Linked DNA regions of Homo sapiens. The protein of the gene in region 1 purifies or fractionates together with the protein of each later gene. This does not show direct contact. Each region holds a gene or a part of one and is shown on either strand. Other genes may lie near its edges.

Evidence for each region. Proteins that work in one complex are often made in the same cells at the same time.
Region 2: the proteins of MMP26 (region 1) and BCAS3 purify together in Homo sapiens (affinity purification with mass spectrometry; one large-scale study listed by BioGRID and IntAct). This does not show direct contact.
Region 3: the proteins of MMP26 (region 1) and GALNT11 purify together in Homo sapiens (affinity purification with mass spectrometry; one large-scale study listed by BioGRID and IntAct). This does not show direct contact.
Region 4: the proteins of MMP26 (region 1) and NXPH4 purify together in Homo sapiens (affinity purification with mass spectrometry; one large-scale study listed by BioGRID and IntAct). This does not show direct contact.

The regions. Positions count from the first base shown.
Region 1 is NC_000011.10:4,702,816-4,707,865, reverse strand, and holds the start of MMP26 (matrix metalloproteinase-26 isoform 1 preproprotein), read right to left. Parts: upstream 3,083-5,050; 5' UTR 2,821-3,082; intron 1-2,820. UniProt on the Homo sapiens protein: May hydrolyze collagen type IV, fibronectin, fibrinogen, beta-casein, type I gelatin and alpha-1 proteinase inhibitor. Is also able to activate progelatinase B.
Region 2 is NC_000017.11:61,072,232-61,076,672, forward strand, and holds part of BCAS3 (BCAS3 microtubule associated cell migration factor), read left to right. Parts: intron 1-2,688; coding exon 2,689-2,789; intron 2,790-4,441. UniProt on the Homo sapiens protein: Plays a role in angiogenesis. Participates in the regulation of cell polarity and directional endothelial cell migration by mediating both the activation and recruitment of CDC42 and the reorganization of the actin cytoskeleton at the cell leading edge.
Region 3 is NC_000007.14:152,101,555-152,105,995, reverse strand, and holds part of GALNT11 (polypeptide N-acetylgalactosaminyltransferase 11), read right to left. Parts: intron 2,885-4,441; coding exon 2,718-2,884; coding exon of another isoform or gene 2,695-2,717; exon of another isoform or gene 1,104-2,694; intron 752-1,103; coding exon 626-751; coding exon of another isoform or gene 609-625; exon of another isoform or gene 1-608. UniProt on the Homo sapiens protein: Polypeptide N-acetylgalactosaminyltransferase that catalyzes the initiation of protein O-linked glycosylation and is involved in left/right asymmetry by mediating O-glycosylation of NOTCH1.
Region 4 is NC_000012.12:57,214,931-57,219,915, reverse strand, and holds the start of NXPH4 (neurexophilin-4 precursor), read right to left. Parts: upstream 3,123-4,985; 5' UTR 2,947-3,122; coding exon 2,890-2,946; intron 1-2,889. UniProt on the Homo sapiens protein: May be signaling molecules that resemble neuropeptides and that act by binding to alpha-neurexins and possibly other receptors.

The DNA.
Region 1 (5,050 bases):
TCAGACCTACGATCTCAGAGCCAGAAAAAATGGCTAGCACAACAGCATCTAAAAGTATCTATTAAATGAATGAATGAACTGCTTCTGAAAATAGTGATAAACCCCAGTGCTTAATATTTCCACATATGTGTGATTCCCGATATGTGGCCCCCTCAAATTATAAGTTAAATTCATGCAATCATAAAAACATATTTCAACATAGGAGGAAAACAAGCAGTTTTCTCAATAATCTGATATTTATCTTTGAGACAAGGACTTTGCTCAGATTTGGACCTAGTGATAAAAACATTTATTTTCCCAGTTGAAGTGGAGAGCAAGTAATGACCTCAAGGTCATACACTCTTTATTTTAAAAATGAGGAAGCAGCCTCTCAATTTAATGTTCTTTTTATTATAGTAAATAAACCCAATTTGCAAACCAAATACCTGATTAGGGGTTAATATTCAAAATATATAAAGAACTCCTACAACTCAGTAGCAAAAACACAAATAACTCAATTTAAAAAGGGACAAAGGACTTGAATAGAGATTTCTCCAAACAAAACATACAAATGGCCAACAAATATAAAAAGATGCTCAACATTACTAATCACATAAATGTGAATCAAAATCATCAAAATCACAGTGAGATATAACCTCATAGCTATGAAAATACTTATTATAAAAAACAATAGCAAGTGTTGACAAGAATGAGAAGAAATTGGACCTATTGTACACAGTTGGAGAGAATGTAAAATCATGCAACCACTGTGAAAAACAGCACATCCACTCTGAGTATATATCCAAAGGAAAGGAAATCAGTTAGTCAAAGAGGTATCTGCACTTCCATATTCATTGCAGAATTAGTCACAATAGCCAACATATGGAAACAACCTAAATGTCCATCAACAAATGAATGCATAAAGAAAGCACAAGACATACATGTAATAGAATACTATTCAACCTTAAAAGCAGTAATATTCTGACACATGCTACAACATGGATGAACCTGAAATGAAATACTTCATGATTCCACTTATATGTGAAGTATCTCTTAGCCAAACTCATAGAAACAGAAACTAGAATGGTGATTGCAACAGACTAGGGAGAGGGAAAAATGGGGGAGATGCTGTTAAACAGGTATAAAGTTTCAGTTACTAAAGAAGAATTAGTTCCAGAGATCTGATATACAACATTTTACTTATAGTTAACAATACTGTATTGTGCTATTAAAAGTTAGAGTAAATCTCATGTTAAGTGTTCTTTTCTTTCTTTCTTTCTTTCTGTCTTTTTTTTTTTTTTTTTTTTTTGAGATAGGGTCTTGCTCTGTTGCCCAGGCTGGAGTGCAGTGGCGCAATCACTGCTCACTGTAGCCTCAAACTTCCAGGCTCCAGTGATCCTCCTGCCTCAGCTCGCCAAGTAAAGAACCTGTAAAGTAGCTGAGACTACAGGCACACACCATCATGCCTGGATAATTTTTTTTTATTTTTTGTAGAGATGGGGTTTCACCATGTTGCCCAGGCTGGTCTTGAACTATTGAACTCAAGGAATACACCTGCCTTGGCCTCCAAAGTGCTGGGATTACAAGTGTGATTTTATCACAATAAAAATAAATAGAATAGCTATATTGTAAACAGCAAAAATAAAAATAAAACATAAAAGAAAAACCCAACAGATTAAGTACTTGGCTATATTTCTCTCTAATAAAATTAGTGGTAATGTATTTAATGCCTTCTACGTGCCAAACAATTTACTTCACTGAATCTGAGTCCCCCTTTCCACTGTACATAGCTCATAGAATCTTTCTTCAACTCCTGCAATCAAAGGGAAACGTAATAGGATTCTTGTAACAGAGGGAACTCTATTAGCAAACATGGGTCCAAGAACAGCTCCCCCCACCACCACCACCACCACCCGCCCCCACCATCCCTGCTCCTGGAGCTGGAGTGCAATGGCACAATCACCTACTCCTCCCAGGTTCAAGCAATTCCCTTGCCTCAGCCTCCCGAGTAGCTAGGACTACAGGTACATGCCACCACACCCAGCTAATTTTTTGTATTTTAGTAGAGATGGGGTTTCACCATGTTGGCCAGGATGGTCTCGATCTCCTGACCTCGTGATCTGCCCACTTCAGCCTCCCAAAGTGCTGGGATTACAGGCGTGAGCCACTGCTCCCGGCCAATAATAGCTTTTTAAAAAAAATTCTGTGATTCTTAAACCAGTCTTGAGTTGTCCTGCGCTAAAACTAATGAGCAAATATTAAACTCTTCTTAAACAGTTCTCTTTAAGTGTCTCTTTCTCCCCCACTGAGAATTCTTCCATGACAGAGCCTATAACTTAAACATCCCTATTACCAGACTACCAGGAACATCTAAATAGACAGCCCTCACAACAAAGCTTCACATTCATTACTATCACAACACCATTATTGGGTATTAATAACTCCCCTTTATGGGTGAGAAAGCAGGGTAAGATTAGATAATCGAGTCTCAGAGGAAACATACGACGTTCTCAAATTCACCCAACAAGCCAATGGCAGATTCAGGAATTGAGCTCTGTTCTTACTCCAAACGCCATGCTCTCGCAAACTCCTTATTTAAATTTTTTTTTCTTTTTTTACTGTGGCATGAACAAACACATGCTGATGACTGTAGTCTATATTTGGAATAACTATTTTGAACGCTACAACGATATTTTTGAGTTGACATAACGTATGAAAATACACTACTGAGTTCATGCTCACATTTACTCTGAATACTTCCGCGTTTGTTTCATATACTATCTGAAGGTTATACAGTACCTAATTTATTTATAACTGTCTTCAATGCACTACAACACTGACCTTGTGCACAGAATTCTTGGGTCTGGAAGGTGAGGTTATTTGATCCTGCCCCCTGCTATTTGAAGGATCATCCCACACAGCAGAGAATCTATTAATGCAAAGCAAGTGAGAGAGAGTTATCTCAACCTCACTAACTTACTTGCAGAAAGGTTCTGTACTACTATAGCTGCGGAATCAGCCCCTGATCAGCCCTGCCCCTGGACAAAGAGGTCCTCTTCTGCCAGGAGAAAACATAGGGAAAAAATTCAGGAATAGGAGAACTACCAGATTTGAGAAAAACAGCCTTTATAAGGAGCCTAGAAGTCACCTGGTGAGAGTCATTTACCCAGCAGAAAAGCAAATTCCTAGGGGAGAACTCCCTACAGCTGTGTCCTGTTAACCCTTTGTGCTCCAAATAACAAATTGTAAAAGGCAACATATTTTCAGTCTATCTTCACTCTTTCTTCCCCAAAAGATAATTCTATAGATGAACTGCAATTTCAATTCTCATTCAAGAGCAATTTGAGCCCTAAACAGCTGTAGGACAACTTTGCATAGAGCCAGAGTAAGGAAGAAGTGTTGTTGTTAACGGATCATTAACAGCTGAGTTTGCTCAGCTGCCATTTGCCGGTTTCACAGCAATCACGAGACACGGAACCCAAATAGGAAAGGGGTTGCTGAGTTACTACATTCACTGAAGGTAGTGCAGTGGTTTTCTGATTGAGGGCCCAGGCCCTCCCCTGAATTTCCTGGGAGCTGTTGCTAACCTGTGCATAGTCACAGAAAATGACAACTTAAGAGGAAGTGACTAAAGGAAGACTACAAAACTTTATGAGTCCCTTGTGTGTCCCTTGCTAGCTTACAGAGATACTAGTCTGCTCTGTCCTAAAACTGCTACCAGCATGTTTACCACTGTGGTGGAGAATTAACCATGTTTGACAGACAGCTTCTATTTAAGCTGTGGACACTCATAAATGGCTTTCAGCTTTGTCATTAATACAGCGTTTCACAATTAATGGTGAGCTTGGAAGCTTGGTAAATTTCAAGGACAACTATTTAAACATGTTTCTTGGCATAAGAGGCTGTATCAAGAGGCCATTACCTTACAAAGTCCTGCTGTATGGAAGAAGGGGACGAGTTAACTATTCCCGTTAGAGTTGCTACAGAGCAGAAAATTTAATTATCCTGTTTAATTTTTTTCTTCTTCTCATGTCACAAGATTCTAGATCCCTAGGAAAATCTGGAAAGATGCATTTTTTCCCAGAAGTTCATAAAGAACCTGAGAAAATATGCTCTCTTTTTAGGTATTTTCTGGACTAATAGAAGCATAATCTTCCCCCATAAATACCTCAATGGGTTAGGGGGGAAATCTTAACAGTCCCAGATAAATGTGCCACATAATGTATGAGACTCCGTGGGAAAAAATGCACAATTTAAATAGAAGCTTTCAAGATACAGAAGCAAAAACAGACGTCCAGGCTGTTACAGGGAAATAAATGTGAAAATCTTACTATCCATGCTAGGAATTCCAGTCTGAGGGGCACTGGTTCATGCTCACAGACACAAGTGCAGGCTGATCTTCTACACACAGCTGCAGAAAATGGAACACAGAAGAGCTTCGGACTCTTTTTTAGTGCACACTCCAGACATTTAAACCATTCACCAGCCAAGGCTTAACAATCAGTGGATACAAGAAGGGCATAATGATCAATGCTCATTTTGACTGGTTGTCTATTCTAATTGTACTGTCCCAGGACTTAAGTATGTTACACACTTGCCTACATCTACCTGTCCATTAAGAGTCAACATAGCATTGGTTCAACTGAAAGTATTTGGAACCAGACAACCTTGGTCCAACCAGACAACCAGACAACCTTGGTCCAAAGCTCAGCTCTGTCACCAATCGTGTGACCTTAGACTACATCACCTCTGTTTTTTGCTTTTAATGTGGAGAAAATCGTTATACTGCTTTATAAGTCTATGTTGTAAAATAAGATAACCCAGTATTGATCCATAAAAAGGTCTTAGCACATTTGCACTCACTCAAAATGTGTTATTAATCATTGTAATAATTTATTTTTATTATTTATCATGATTACTATTGTTCTCATTAATATAGCAATTTTATTAAATTATCATTTAGTGCCTAGTATGTGTCAGATACTATGTTCCAATGTTGAGATGAGAAGGTGTAGTATCTACTCTCAAGGAACTCATATATCAGACAGATAGATAGACAACCATTATAACA
Region 2 (4,441 bases), on another chromosome or scaffold:
TCCAAACATACACAAAACTAGAAAATAATAGTATAGTGAGCCTCCATGTACCTATCAGCCAGCTATAACAATGATCAACTAATGACCAATCCTGTTTTCATCTGTAATTCTACCTCCCACCTTCATCCCTGCACTGGGTTATTTTGAAGCTAATCCCAGACATTATAATATATTATCCCTATTTTGATGATGGATAAATAAGTGTCCAGCCATTCTAGTGCCGTTACTTACTTAGTACAGAATCCAAAACTCCAACCACCCAGTAAATACTTATTGAGTACTTGTTCTGTGACACGTACTAGTCTAGGCTCAGCATATATAAAACACAACATAAACTTTTGGAGAAATTCACATTAGGTACTAGCTAGTTACGTAAGGCATGGTTACTCACTTCTACTTAAAAATTGCTAATTGCTTTCCATCATATTACTCGAGCTTTATTACCAAAAAAAAAAAAAAAAAAGAAGAAAGGAAAAGCCCACAGTAATCTGCTGGTCCTACTTCCTTTGCCTTACTGACTTAACCTTCCACTCACAACATGGCTTATCCCACCCAACCACAGTGGCCTCCTAGCTGTTACTTATTCCCTTTATGTTTACATCTCAAAATCTTTGTACTTAACATTCCCTTGGTCACACCTCTCCTTCAGATATTTGCATAACATATTACCTCACCTCTTTAAAATCTTCTCTGCCCTCATCTGCTTTCCAGCCTCTACATATTTTCCATATTCACATTTTTCACTAGTATTTAAGGGGTGGGAATTTCAAGGATCCTCTTGTTCTCTTCTGTATTAAGAATTAATATAGAATTTAGTGGTGGGAAGATAACTTAGCCTTTTGAAAATATCATTACTTATCAGCCTTTCAATGTATATCAATTATTTCCAAAAGAATGCTGAAATAATAGTTATTGTGATATTCTTTTCTTCTTGATATAATTTGTCATCACAAGAATGTAGGTGTATGCTTTTGTGATCATTTGTGTTTTGTACAAATGCCACCATGCCGCTTGGCTGTAGAACTATGATTTTGAAGAACTAGCAGCTAAAAGTTTTGATTACTGCAGATCTTACACTTTAATACTGTGTATGCCTCTGCTGAGTAATTCACTGAATTAGCATTTCTCCTCTTGCAGCAAGTTAAGATAAGCTTTTTGTGAGTCTGTGTCTTTTAAAATCTTGCCCTAGGTTATGCTTTGTCTACTTTATTTGTATCTGTTTCACTAAGATACAGTTTTTCAAAATACTACCTTGTTCTAGCAAGAGCTCAGTGAGGTTGGCATTCTCTTTCACTGCTTGGGTAAGTGTATAACTCTTTCTGGGAACATATATTAAGAAATTTATATATTTACATCCTCTGATTTCATATGTAGGAATCTAACTCAAGGAAATTTTTGTATGTTGATGTGTATATATAAATGTCTTTTGGTGGTAGAAATTATGAGGGTTTTCAGCTTCTCATTCTTTTCTATTTCTTCCACACTTCTTTAATGATCATCTCTTACTTTCTTACTTTTCTTTCTACTTACCTCCCCTCTTTTTCTCTGTTCCTCCCAGTACTTCATTGCTTGATTTCTCTGAGTATTAAAATGGTAGGCCAGGCGTGGTGGTTCATGCCTGTAATCCCAGCACTCTGAGAGCCAAAGCCAGAGGATCACTTGAGGCCAGGAGTTTGACACCAGCCTGGTCAACATTGTGAGATCCTGTCTCTACAAGGAAGAAAATATTGGGCAGGCATTGGTAGCTCATGCCTGTAGTCTCAGCTACTTATTAGACTGAGGTGAGAAGATGGTTTGAGCCCAGAAGTTTGAGGTTACAGTGAGCTATGATCATGCCACTGTAATCCAGCATGTGTAACACAGCAAGATCCTATCTCTTAAGAAAAAAAAAAAAAAAAAAAGATTAAATACAATCATGTATGAGGTTGGGGGGTTATATGGGAAATATCCGTATCTTTAGCTCAACTTTGCTGTGAACCTAAAACTGCTGTTAAAAAAAAAAAGAAGAAAAAAAGAAAAAAATACCTTTAGAGACATGGAGACAGACAGAGTGAGTGAGTCGTAGCTTCCAAAGAAGAGACTAAGATTTTGAGGAGATAATATCTGGTTCATATTAGGAACTCAGTAAATATTTTTGAATCATTGTATTGTTTTACTAAGCAAATGTTCCTATTTGAATGAAAAAGTAGGCTGTTGTAATTTGACTATGTCATACCACTTAAGAATCATGAAAACTACTCAGGTATCTAAGAAAGATGATGTATTTCTCTGGATAAATGAATTTTTTTTAGGACTGAAAGCATTTTTTCTATTAAGTGTGCATGTTTATGCCTAGCATTTATATGAAGCTACTAAATAAACTCTTTTAAAGAATCCTAATGTCATCCCCCAATGAATAGATTTGTCGCTGCTCTTCAGTGTACTTTTGCTATTAGCATATGTAGTTAGTTGTTTATTTCTTTTATTGCAAGAAGATGGCATTACTAAATTTCTGTAGATATTTTTTAAAGTATCTTATTCCTAAGAACTTCATTCTTACTTGTTCAATAATTGTTTGAATTGCCTTTTTGCTTTAAAGTATTATATTTTATCTTATAAATTACCATAGTATCCAAAATGGTTGTGCCCACGTCTGTTTTTCCACTGCATGGAATGAAGTGGTTTAAATCTATTTTCTTTCTCCTATAGTGGTTCCCCCTGGAAGTCCTGGGCCCATTACTCGACATGGGTCTTACGACAGTTTAGCTTCTGACCATAGTGGACAGGAAGATGAAGAATGGCTTTCCCAGGTAAAACTCTGAAATATTGAGAGTATTAAAGTAAAATAAAACAGAAATTTACTGTTTTTATTCTTTTCCTTAGAGGTAAAAGGGGAGAATTGGTAACTCTTTATTGGATTATCAAGAATTAGTTGTCTTTCCATATTACAAATTACTCCACAAATATTGCTGCAGGTGTACATATACATATTATATATACATTATACGTGTGTGTATATATATATATGTTAGCTTCCATAAACATGGCATAAAATTTGTGTATTTTTCACACAATCCATTTAAAGCCTTAGGGCCTTGGAATCAATTAATTTATTAATTTTTGAGACAGAGTCTTGCTCTGTCACCCAAGCTGGAGTGCAGTGACACGACCTTGGCTCACTGCAACCTCCAATTCCTGGTTTCAAGCGATTCTCATGCCTCAGCTTCTTGAGTAGCTGGGATTACAGGCATGCACCACCATGCCTGGCTAATTTTTGTATTTTTAGTAGAGAAGGGGTTTCGCCATGTTGGCCAGGTTGGTCTTGAACTCCTGACTTCAAGCAATCCACCCTTCTTGGCCTCCCAAAGTGCTGGGATTACAGACGTGAGCCACTGTGGCCAGCCAGGAGCTTGGAATTTAAATAGGCTCTTTGGAACACATTTTCATCAGGTTTAAAATAAAAGTTGACCTTGATGAAACAGTGAAGCCACTCAGCAATCTTTGGGATTTGTTTTGTGGAGCCAACATTTTCCGAAGATTGAGTTCATACTTTCATTATTGGAAATATAACATTCCACCCTGCAGAAATTCTGATGGTGCCTTGGTTTCCTTTCCTAAGCCCATGTAATGCTGCTTTTAGTGGTCTCTAAGCCAGCCCTACAACATTGCTGGGACTGCAGGCACGCATCACCATGCTGGCTAATTTGTTTTTTTTGTTTGTTTTTTAATGTAGAGACAGGATCTCCCTATGTTGCTTAGGCTGGTCTTGAACTCCTGGGCTCAAGCAATCCTCCTGTGTTGGCCTCCCAAAGTGCTGGGATTACAGGCAAGAGCCACCATGCCCAGTCTCCAACAGCTTCACTGACCATCCCTCCCCTTGCCAGGTGAAGCTGTCTTCATCTCAAGGGCTTTGAAATAAAAGATACTTGGGCAGATGTCAAAATGATGGGATTACAAATGACTTCATTACAAATGCTGTTATGTCTGCCTCAAGTCTGACATCATTTTATGAAGCTAATGACCTATCTCAGGTTACCAATCTGACAGCTTTTCATCGGACAGGTGCCTCAAAAATGTGGAGGCCATTTGTAGTTTCATTTCTTTCTCAAGGAGGGTAGCCTGAAAACTAAAGTCTGGAAAATCAAAAGTAAAGTAAACTGGAAAATCAAGCAGTGTCTAGGTAACATGTATTTATTTCATCACACCAAAAATATTCACAGGAAGTTCCTTGAAGGAAGTTGATTCTTCAGTTCCTGGCATGTGGCGGTCCATCCTTTCTTAATGTTAGGAAGATAAAGTAAACCCCAAATGTGTGTTTTTTCCAAAATCAAAATGTTGTCCAAGGAATGCTGGCAGAGAAACCACTGTCCTTCACTTCAACTTTTCAATTAGAAAAAGGGGTAATGTGTGCTGTCAGTGTGAAAGTATATACAATGTGTTTGTCCGGCACACAACAGGAGAG
Region 3 (4,441 bases), on another chromosome or scaffold:
TTCTGCAGAAGACTGAATTTGAGATCGGTTATTTCTTTTTAAAGGGGGAGAGCAGTGTATGATGGAAATATACTAGTAACAACGGAGACTTGCTCCTTGATGGAATCAGAAGGATTAAGAGGGAATTTTAAAGAAAATGCCATTTATAGTTTTGTAAGTCAATCTTACGTCCATTAACCAATTAAAGTCATGATGTGTGGCTCCAGAGGGATGCACTCCGCACTAAGAGTTAAAAGCATAGTTCCAATCGACAGTTTGGGTTCATACATTTTAAATTTTGTATTTAAAAACATAAAAATTCAGTTACATTTTGGTCTGGGCTTTTCTGCTTATATAAGTGAATAAGATATAAAATATATTTGAGGGGCAGTAAGTATCAAAGAAGGGTTGCTATGAAAATAGACACTGAGGATTTGAGAGTTCAGCCCCCTGCACTATGTGCTTTGGGATGGCAGGCTTGGCGTTATGAACAGGTCTTTCCCAAACAGAACAAGCCTCATCTCTCCTGCTGGCAATGTCCGTTTGAAACACTACTCTTCATAGACTTTGCAGAATCAGGACAGGCGCTGAGGCTCGAGCCCTTGTCATCCAACACCTGTAGAGCAAAGCTAACGAGAAGTGATACCTGTCGCGTGGGCCGCGCCAATCATTCTCCCTCGAATCAACCCCTCACGCTTTGTATTTCTTATGACTTTAATTTTTCCAGGGAGGTATTTTTGGACATATTCATCTAGTTCTCCTTTCAAATCATCTGAAAATAAAGTCCCACAATTATTCAAACTGTATGAGACATATATAAAGACACTTTACAGCTATTCTAAAGTTGTATCTAGTACTTGCTAAAATTTACAACAAACTATCAAGCAAATACTACAGAATATTTTACTTTAAAAGAGTATTGTAGCTTATCCTGTAGGAAGAAAAAGAAATGAAGGGTAAGAGCTGGAATACTAGCAAAGAGGAATACTTACTTTAGTTACAGACTTATTTGTATCTCCATAGCATCGAGCACAATGCTTTGCACAAAGAATGTTTGAAATGAGTATTTTGAGTGCATAAATGTTCAGCTGACCATATATAAATCACATTGATAACAAAGAAAATGAGATATAAATGCCTTTTATTACAAAGGAATTTATTAAGTCTTAGTCCATTTCAAAATAGTTAAGAAACAACTTCTATTGCCCCTACCAAGAATAACAAGAACAGCATTGAATATGTCCTTTTATTAATTTAGCATCTTTCTTCCAAGGTTGCTAAATATTTTTTAAGGAATTCTATGTCATTCACCTGTATATTTCAGAATAACTTGAAAGATCGTGTAAGATAATAAGCAGTAATTCTTTCCATAGTTAATATACAAACCACCTCAAATTATGAATTTTTCCTTTTAGGTAAAATAGCCACAAAGTGAAAACCAAAATACAAGTTGACTTAAAAAAAAACAAAAACCAACCATAAATTCTAGAAATCAGTATGTAACCAATCTTCTACGTGGTCCAGACTCAGATTTATTTATTAGGTTTTTTGTTTGTTTGTTTTTGGCCAAGGTTTGAGAATTTTGCTCCCATGACTCTCTCCATTTCTTTACCTTCTATATTTAAGTATACTGGTATACCAACTCTGATGTTGATACAAGTGGTACTTAATAAACGCTCGAGTGCATGAAAAAGTCACTGGCATACACCTGTACCACTGTGTTCCTGCAGCCTGCTGTCATGAAAAGAGCAGAAGGCTTGGAGCTATGCAGACCAGAGGTCTCATTTCCACTCTACTACTTAACAGCTATGGGGTCTGAGCAAATTACTTTTTATATTTCTCCCTCTATAAAATGGGCTTCCAGCCTTTCTTGCAAGGTCACTGAGAGCTGAATGAGCAGTGTAATAAAAAGCCTTCTATCCTGTTTGGGTACACAAAGCCATTCTTAGCAAGAGTCTATGTTGAATTAAGAAAGGCGTACAGAATATAGAATATGTAGTGAATCATAAAATACTGGCATTCAGAGATCATTGAGGAGCTATCAGAATGCAATCCACTTTTATCTGGGGACGATCAGTGTAAGAGACTTAATAGAGAAGCATAAGCCAAGGCATCATGCCAAATGAAAAAAGCCCATCTCAAAAGGTCACATACCGTGTGATTCCATTTATATGACATTCTTGAAATAACAAAATCAGAGATGGAAACAAAATCATAGAGTCGTGGTTTCAGGGACTGGGGAAGAGTAGAGGAAAGCAGGAGGTGTGACTAGAAAGAGGCAGCACAAGGGCCCTCCGGGTGAGGAAACAGTTCTGTATCATTGCAGTGAGGGTTGTGGGAGTCCACCTGTGTGACAGAATGACCCTGGACCACACACACTGTACCAATGTGGATTCCTGGTTCTGACAGGGGAATTTTATGATGGAGCAACTGGATAAAGGTACATAGGCCGTCTTTGTAACTTCCTGTGAACCTACAGTTATTTCAAATAAAAAGAGGTGTGTTTTTTAAAGTAAGCCACGGAAAAAATTTCACGGCCCAAATTTGGGTAGCATAGTTTATAAGCAGGTTACAAAGATAATGGATTTCTTCAGACTTATTTGTGGTCAGCCCAGCTGTGACTGCACGTGTAGGATCCCCACCTACCACGTACTTGAAAGTTCAGCTGTGTTAGTGTTTGTCAGTGCTGTAGTGACTGACAGCCTGGATCCAATGTTACCAGGTGCAGCATTCCTTACCAAAGTCACTATCATCATCCACAAGGATGATCTCATGAAGCAGGTGTGCTGGCGTGCGGTCTATGACACTGTGCACTGTCCGAAGCAAGGCAGAAAACGCTTCATTATAGAAACAGATAACAACACTAGCAGCTGGCAGGTCAGGTGGGTAGAACTTTTCTTTACATCTGTAAAGATAAAGATGAGGAAATTCTGACATTTTAAAAGGCTCGAATGGTTTAGATTATTATTCACCTACAGATTTACTGTCCCCTTGTTCACCCTCTTCCCCCACCCCCTGCCTTTTTTTTTTTTTTTGAGACGGAGTCTCGCTCTTGTTGCCCAGGCTGGAGTGCAGTGGCGCTATCTCGGCTCATCGTGACCTCCGCCTCCCAGGTTCAAGCGATTCTCCTGCCTCAGCCTCCCGAGGAGCTGGGATTACAGGCATGCGACACCACATCCGGCTAATTCTGCATTTTTAGTAGAGACAGGGTTTCTCCATGTTGGTCAAGCTGGTCTCGAACTCCTGACCTCAGGTGATCTGCCCACCCCAGCCTCCCAAAGTGCTGGGACTACAGGCGTGAACCACCACGTCCAGCCTGTTCAGCCTCTTTCTAACATTATGGTAACAACAATTTTTTTTAAAAGCATTTACAAAAACAATACGGTTTCTTCTTCAAGAGTTTTACATTTTGCTAATAATGTCTCCCTCCTATACCTGCTATCTTGTTTACTTTTGGATAAATTTTTTCTTTTTTTGAGACGGTGTCTTGCTCTGTCACTAGGCTGGAGTGCTGTGGCGCGATCTCGGCTCACTGCAACCTCCGACTCCCTGGTTCAAGCGATTCTCCTGCCTCAACCTCCTGAGTAGCTGGGATTACAGGCCTGCGCCACCACGCCCAGGTAATTTTTGTATTTTTAGTAGAGACAGAGTTTCACCACATTGGCCAGGATGGTCTCGATCTCCTGACCTCGTGATCCACCCACCGCGCCCTCCCAAAGTGCTGGGATTACAGGTGTGAGCCACCATGTCCAGCCGAATAAAGACTTTTTAAACTTCAGGGTTTTTTTTCTTTTTTGGAAGAGAGGGTACATAAAAATGTGAGTTCTTTTTACCAAAATCACTGCAAGTGTTTCATGCAGCACTCATGAGCTGATGTCCAGCTTCTCCTCAATGAGGTTTCAAAAGGAAACAAATATAAGACTTTATATTTGAAATTTTATTTTTTTGCCCAATAATAAAAAAGATTTGAATAAATTATGATATACCAAGATAACAGAAGAGCTTCCATGTATCAAATCATTCCAAGCAACTATTTGGGAAAAAAAGGGTTAGGAGCTTTAAGCAACATCAAAAAGCCATGAACTGGCCAGGCGCAGTGGCTCACGCCTGTAATCCCTGCACTTTGGGAGGCCAAGGTGGGCAGATCACGAGGTCAGGAGTTTGAGACCAGCCTGGCCAACATGGTGAAACCCTATCTCTACTAAAACTATAAAAATTAACCAGGCGTGGTGGTGCACGCCTGTAGTCCTAGCTACTCAGGAGGCCGAGGCAGGAGAATCACTTGAACTTGGGAGGTGGAGGTTATAGTGAGCCGACATCATGCCACCACACTCCAGCCTGGGCAACAGAGAAAGACTCCATCCCCCCCCCCCCAAAAAAAAGCCATGAACTTAGAGAACACATTGAGAACCCTGAATTCTTTCCCAGGGCACACACAGCCCTCCAGCATCTGAGCCCTGCC
Region 4 (4,985 bases), on another chromosome or scaffold:
CCTTGCTTCTGTCCTTATTACCTCACCTCTTCGCCAGTCACCCCGCTCCTGGGTCTCCAGCTCCTCTACCCATCCCAACCCTGACACTCTAAATTCTCCTTTCTGACGCATGCCCCTCCTATTAGGAATGTGAGGCTTCCACTGCAGGCTCTGGCCCAAGGGAGCTGTCACAGCAGGCCCTCCCCTGTCCCCCTGGCCCAGCTGCGGCCCCTGATTACCCCCAAATCCCCGGCAGCAGCTCTGGGCCCTAGCCCAGGCTGTGCGTGCCTAAGTGGCCCAGGCAGAGATTAGCTGGGGGGCTAGAGGAGGGTGTGGAGGCAGGAGGGGGTAGCTGGCTGAGGGGCTTCGGCCAGCCAGCTCTAAGAGAATCAGACCTAATCCTTTCCTGAGGCGGGATAGAGCTGGCAGGTCCCACAGGGCCCCGCCCCTGCCCTCCCCCAGCTAATTAGTAATTAGTGATTAGTGATTAGTGACTATTGATCGCCTGCTGCTTCTCCCAGTAGGCAGCTGCTTTGGCAAGGGGTCGGGGAGACAGAGAGAGAGGGAAAGGAGTCAGAGACTGTATGAGAAAGATCCTCAAGAATCCCTGGCTGAGAGGCCAGAACCCCAGAGGCAGTGGAAGCCAGGAGTCCCAGGCTCTGAGAAATGGGAAGCCTGGAGTGAGGAGGAAGGGAGAGAAACCTGGAGGAGGGTGAGCAAGCAGGACGGGAGAGGCAGAGGTGTCAGCCGTTCATGGTTAGGGTTGCCAAAAAGTTGCCCTGTAAACTGTCCCCTAGCCACCTCTTACCCAGGATCAGCCTCACCTTTTGCCCACTCCCAGTGCTGGCACCAAGACACCCTTGAGCACCCACACACATAAGCCACACTCAGATACATAAACACATCCTGAGGCTCACAATCTCATAGCACACTCAAATGCACTCACAATCACAAGCACACAGAAACACACTCACAAACCCCAGAGACTCATACAGACAACACATGGGCCCCAGCACACAGATGCACCAGAAACCCCGGGGTATACATGTGCATACGCCACACTCACAAGTGCACAGAAGCACACACAGGTATTTGGACACACAAACACTCATATACCCACACCTCCCCGTGCAGTTATACATATTCACACACCCGCAGTGTGTACACATGTAAACACATTCTCACATGCACATAAGCTGGGCTAACCAGCAGATCCACTCTCCCTGTTGACTCCAACACGGAGGCCCCACAGCTGCAGCTCACACACACACACTCAGATAGATCCCATTGCTCATATCCTCACGCTCACTCTCACTCAAGTCTCCACCAGATGTTTCATTCCCCCTCAGGGGGCAAAGGAAATTAAACCAGATCTGTCCACAGGGGAGTTTATTTGCCTGGGAGAGTGGAGATGAGGTGGGAGGAAGTGGAAAGGAGGGGCAAGAGAATGCCATACCTACCACCTCTTGACCCCAGGCCTTCACACATGGGTGGGTGGGTGGTAGGGCACAGACCCCCCCCACTCCTCCAGTTCACTAAGGACAGAGTTGGGCAGCAAGTCCCTAAGAAGCTCCTGCTAGTGGAAGCAGTTTTCATGGAGGGGCTCCTCTGCCTACCGTGCAGCCCCTCAAGGTCACCAGGTGGGGCTGGGAGGGCCAGGGAGCTCTAATGCTAGCTTCACTGGGGCAGCCCCTGCCCTGCTGGGGTTTGCCAAATGTGATTTGGCTGAGCAGGCAGAGGTCCAAGTGTTGGGGGAAGAAATACACCCCTTCTAGACTCTACAGGGGCTGAGGGTACAGAGAATGAGGGTTTGGGGAATGACCTGCCTGCCCCCAAACTAGGTAGGTCACAGTTGGGGGTCAGAAAACAGGGAAGCCATAGGCAGGGGAGGCTGGTAGAAGGAAAATGGGGGACTGGGGCCTGGGCCCCCATTGCGGGCACACACCAGGGGCATAGGCAGATGGCTGCACTGTGAGGCAGGCACTGACACTCACTCATGCAAAGCCAACACCACACACCACACCAGTATACACATGTACCCTCGGCCCCAGTACTGGACCAAGCCTGGCTTCCCTGGACACATGCACACAGGTGCACACGGTGACCCACGCCCTCCACCCAGCACATATGAGCACAGCATGTTCGCAGGTTGAAGCCTCCAAGTCAGGAAGGAGGCAGATCAAGTCTGAGCTCCCTTAGCCTCTGGCTCTTCGCCCGAGAGCCTCAGGGAAAGAGGCCTTGGAGTGGGGTTGGAGGCAGGGAGGGCATGGGAGGAGAGACTCCCCTTCCAGACAGCCTCCCCCTTCAGTGGGGCACGAGAGGGGGGTGTGTCTGTGAGGTCGTGCAGGGGAGATGGTGTCTCCGTGGGAAATGTGATGGGAGGCTGGCTGTAGCCAAGTTCAGCCGTGTCTGCCTGAGTCCGTGTGTGCGTGTGTGCTCGGGCCATGGATGCTCCCGACACAGAGCCCACCTGGCATGGTGACAAGTGCAGAGAAGAGAAATGGGAAGGCGGGGGTGGAGGGGTGGAAGGACAGACAGACAGTGAGGCAGGCGAGCGAGACTGGCGCGGAAAGACGGCAAGGCTGACACCCTGCTGGCTTGTCTGTCTGTCTCGCACTCCCGCTCTGTCTGGCGCACTCGCGGGTCGGGCTTCGTCCCCTCCCCCGCCGCGCCTGAAGTCGGCTGCAAGGGGGACCTCCGCCCGGCACCCTCTCCAAGCCTCAGCCAACTTGCGCTAGGAGAGTGCCCGTCCTGAATCGGGCAGTCTGTCTGTCCGCTTCCCCCGCGCCGCGCAAAGTTGGGACGCTCGGAGCTGGGGGCGGGGCGGGCGCACGGAGCCCCTCGCACACTGGGACCTTCGCGTCCCGGAACCCCGCGCCCGCGCTAGCGCCCCAGCCCTGCCACTCTTACCTTCCTAAGGAGCCACGGGCCAAAGAGCAAGAGGAACCATTCCGGGAGCAGCCGCATCTTCTCTGGCGGCTGAGCGGGGCAGGCTGGGCGGGTCTCGGGCAGGCGGGAGCCAGGCCTAGGGACGCGGGGCTCCGGGCGGGCGGCGGGGCGGCTGCGGGAGCGGCGGGAGCGGCGGGAGCGGCGGGAGCGGCGGCGCGGCCCGCGGACTGGGCGCGAGGCGCGGAGCCGGCGCTGGGGGCGGGGCGCGGGCGGGGGAGAAAGTTGGGTCTGACTCCGCGGGCGGGGGGCGGGGCTCCGCGGCGCTCCAATCCCGGCCGCGCCCCGCGCGCCCCCTCCCGCCCAGCTGGGGGCACCGAAGGTGACTTTCACACCGGCACGCCCCGGACACGCCCCTGGCCCAGGTGCGAAGCGGAGGGGGTCGAGGGGCTCAGGCACTGGTCCCCCGAGAGGCCGCGTCTGTGCGCCCAGGAGGAACGGGGCAGGGCGTGGGGCTCTGGGCTCCGGGCCCGTGCACCTGGAGTGGGGGCGCCGCGGAGCCCAGCCGGACGACGCTCTCCAAGCCCCGGGCCTCTGCCCTGTTCAGGGCCAAGGTGTGTCGGGGCAGGCGCAGGGCAGGGGCCGAGGTGGGGACGGGCGGGGCCTCGGGCGGCTGCCGCCGCGCGATGCTGACGGGGATGGATGGGCGCCCCGCGGCTCATTCGGCCCGGAGATGAGAATCATTGATCACGGACGGAAACCCCATCACGTCTGTCAATAGGGCTGACAAACGGCGCCCTCCGCCCCGTCCCCGCCTCACCGCACCTCTGCGGTCTCAGGACCCCTCGGCTAGACCGGCTGTTCACCTTTGCCCCTGGCCCCCACCACTGACCCCCACGAGGCCCAGTGCGCCTCTGCATGGGGGCTGGGCAGGAAATCCCTCTCAGCGCCGCCTGCCTGGCCTCTTGGTGCAGTCTCTGTTCCTCCCCTCCCGCCGTCCCATCTTTCACCACCAGCTCTTCTAGATCCTTGTCCCCATTCCCTATCTCTGTCCTTGTCTCTGTCCCCAGCCCCAGCTCTCTGCCCCCATCCTCTTCTCTGTTTCTTCCTCGGTTCCCTCCTCCCCACTGCCTCTCTCTCTCCTGCCCGGGTGGTTTCAGCTGTCAGCTGTTGCTATGCACTGAGGCTGTGGCTGAGGTTGTGGTATGACCAACACCTAGACAGAGATAGGGACAAGCAAAGAGACTGAGAGACAGACACATCCCTTGAGAGCCCACCCCAGGGATGCACGCAGATGCCTTCACGGGGACAGGGCACACAGAGCGAAATACAGAGACAGGCGCACACCTAGCGGCACCCCAACACACAGAGGAGCACAGCAACAGAGGTGAGCACACCTGCACCCAGACGAGCACACCCAGACAGTTGCTCAGTGCGCTCACCCTCTCTTTGTCTTGGCAGAGAGCAAACACCCACAGAGGTGGACACACACACTGAGACATACACAGGTGTATGCTGTCACTGGCAGCCCAGAAGACAAGTGGGGGCACATACAAAGAAATGGACAGATAGATATGGGACGTGACAGCCACACACACGAGTCAGGAAAAGGACCGGTGCTGAGAGGACGAGGCAGATTCAGAGACACCCAGGGAGACAGGCAGAAGCCAGGAGGCAGGAACCTGGGTGCCGGGGTGGGGGTGGAGAGGAGAGAGGCAGGAAGGGGCAGAAATGTTCAGGCTCAAGGCCAAAAGGCCTTGAGCCAGAACCCTGAGCCCACGTTCCAGGCACGGGGGCTGCTTCAGTAGTAGGTGGGAACAGTGGGCACACCTAGGCGTAGGCTGTCCAGGACAGAAGCCCATTACCAGGGTCCTGGTCTTCTGGGGGCCGAACCCACTGCATCTCTCCTCCTTTAGCTACAGTCTCAGGCCACCTGTTCTCTCTCCAGTTACACACACACATGTGTGCGCGCTCGCACAAACACAAGTGCAAACACACACATGCACACTACTCGCCCTGTCTCTGGGTCTTTGCCTCTGTCCCCCTGTCTCTCCGCCTCTGGGTTTCTGCCTCTCATTCGGTATCAGCTTCTGTCCCTGGTTCTCAGCCTCTGTCCCTGG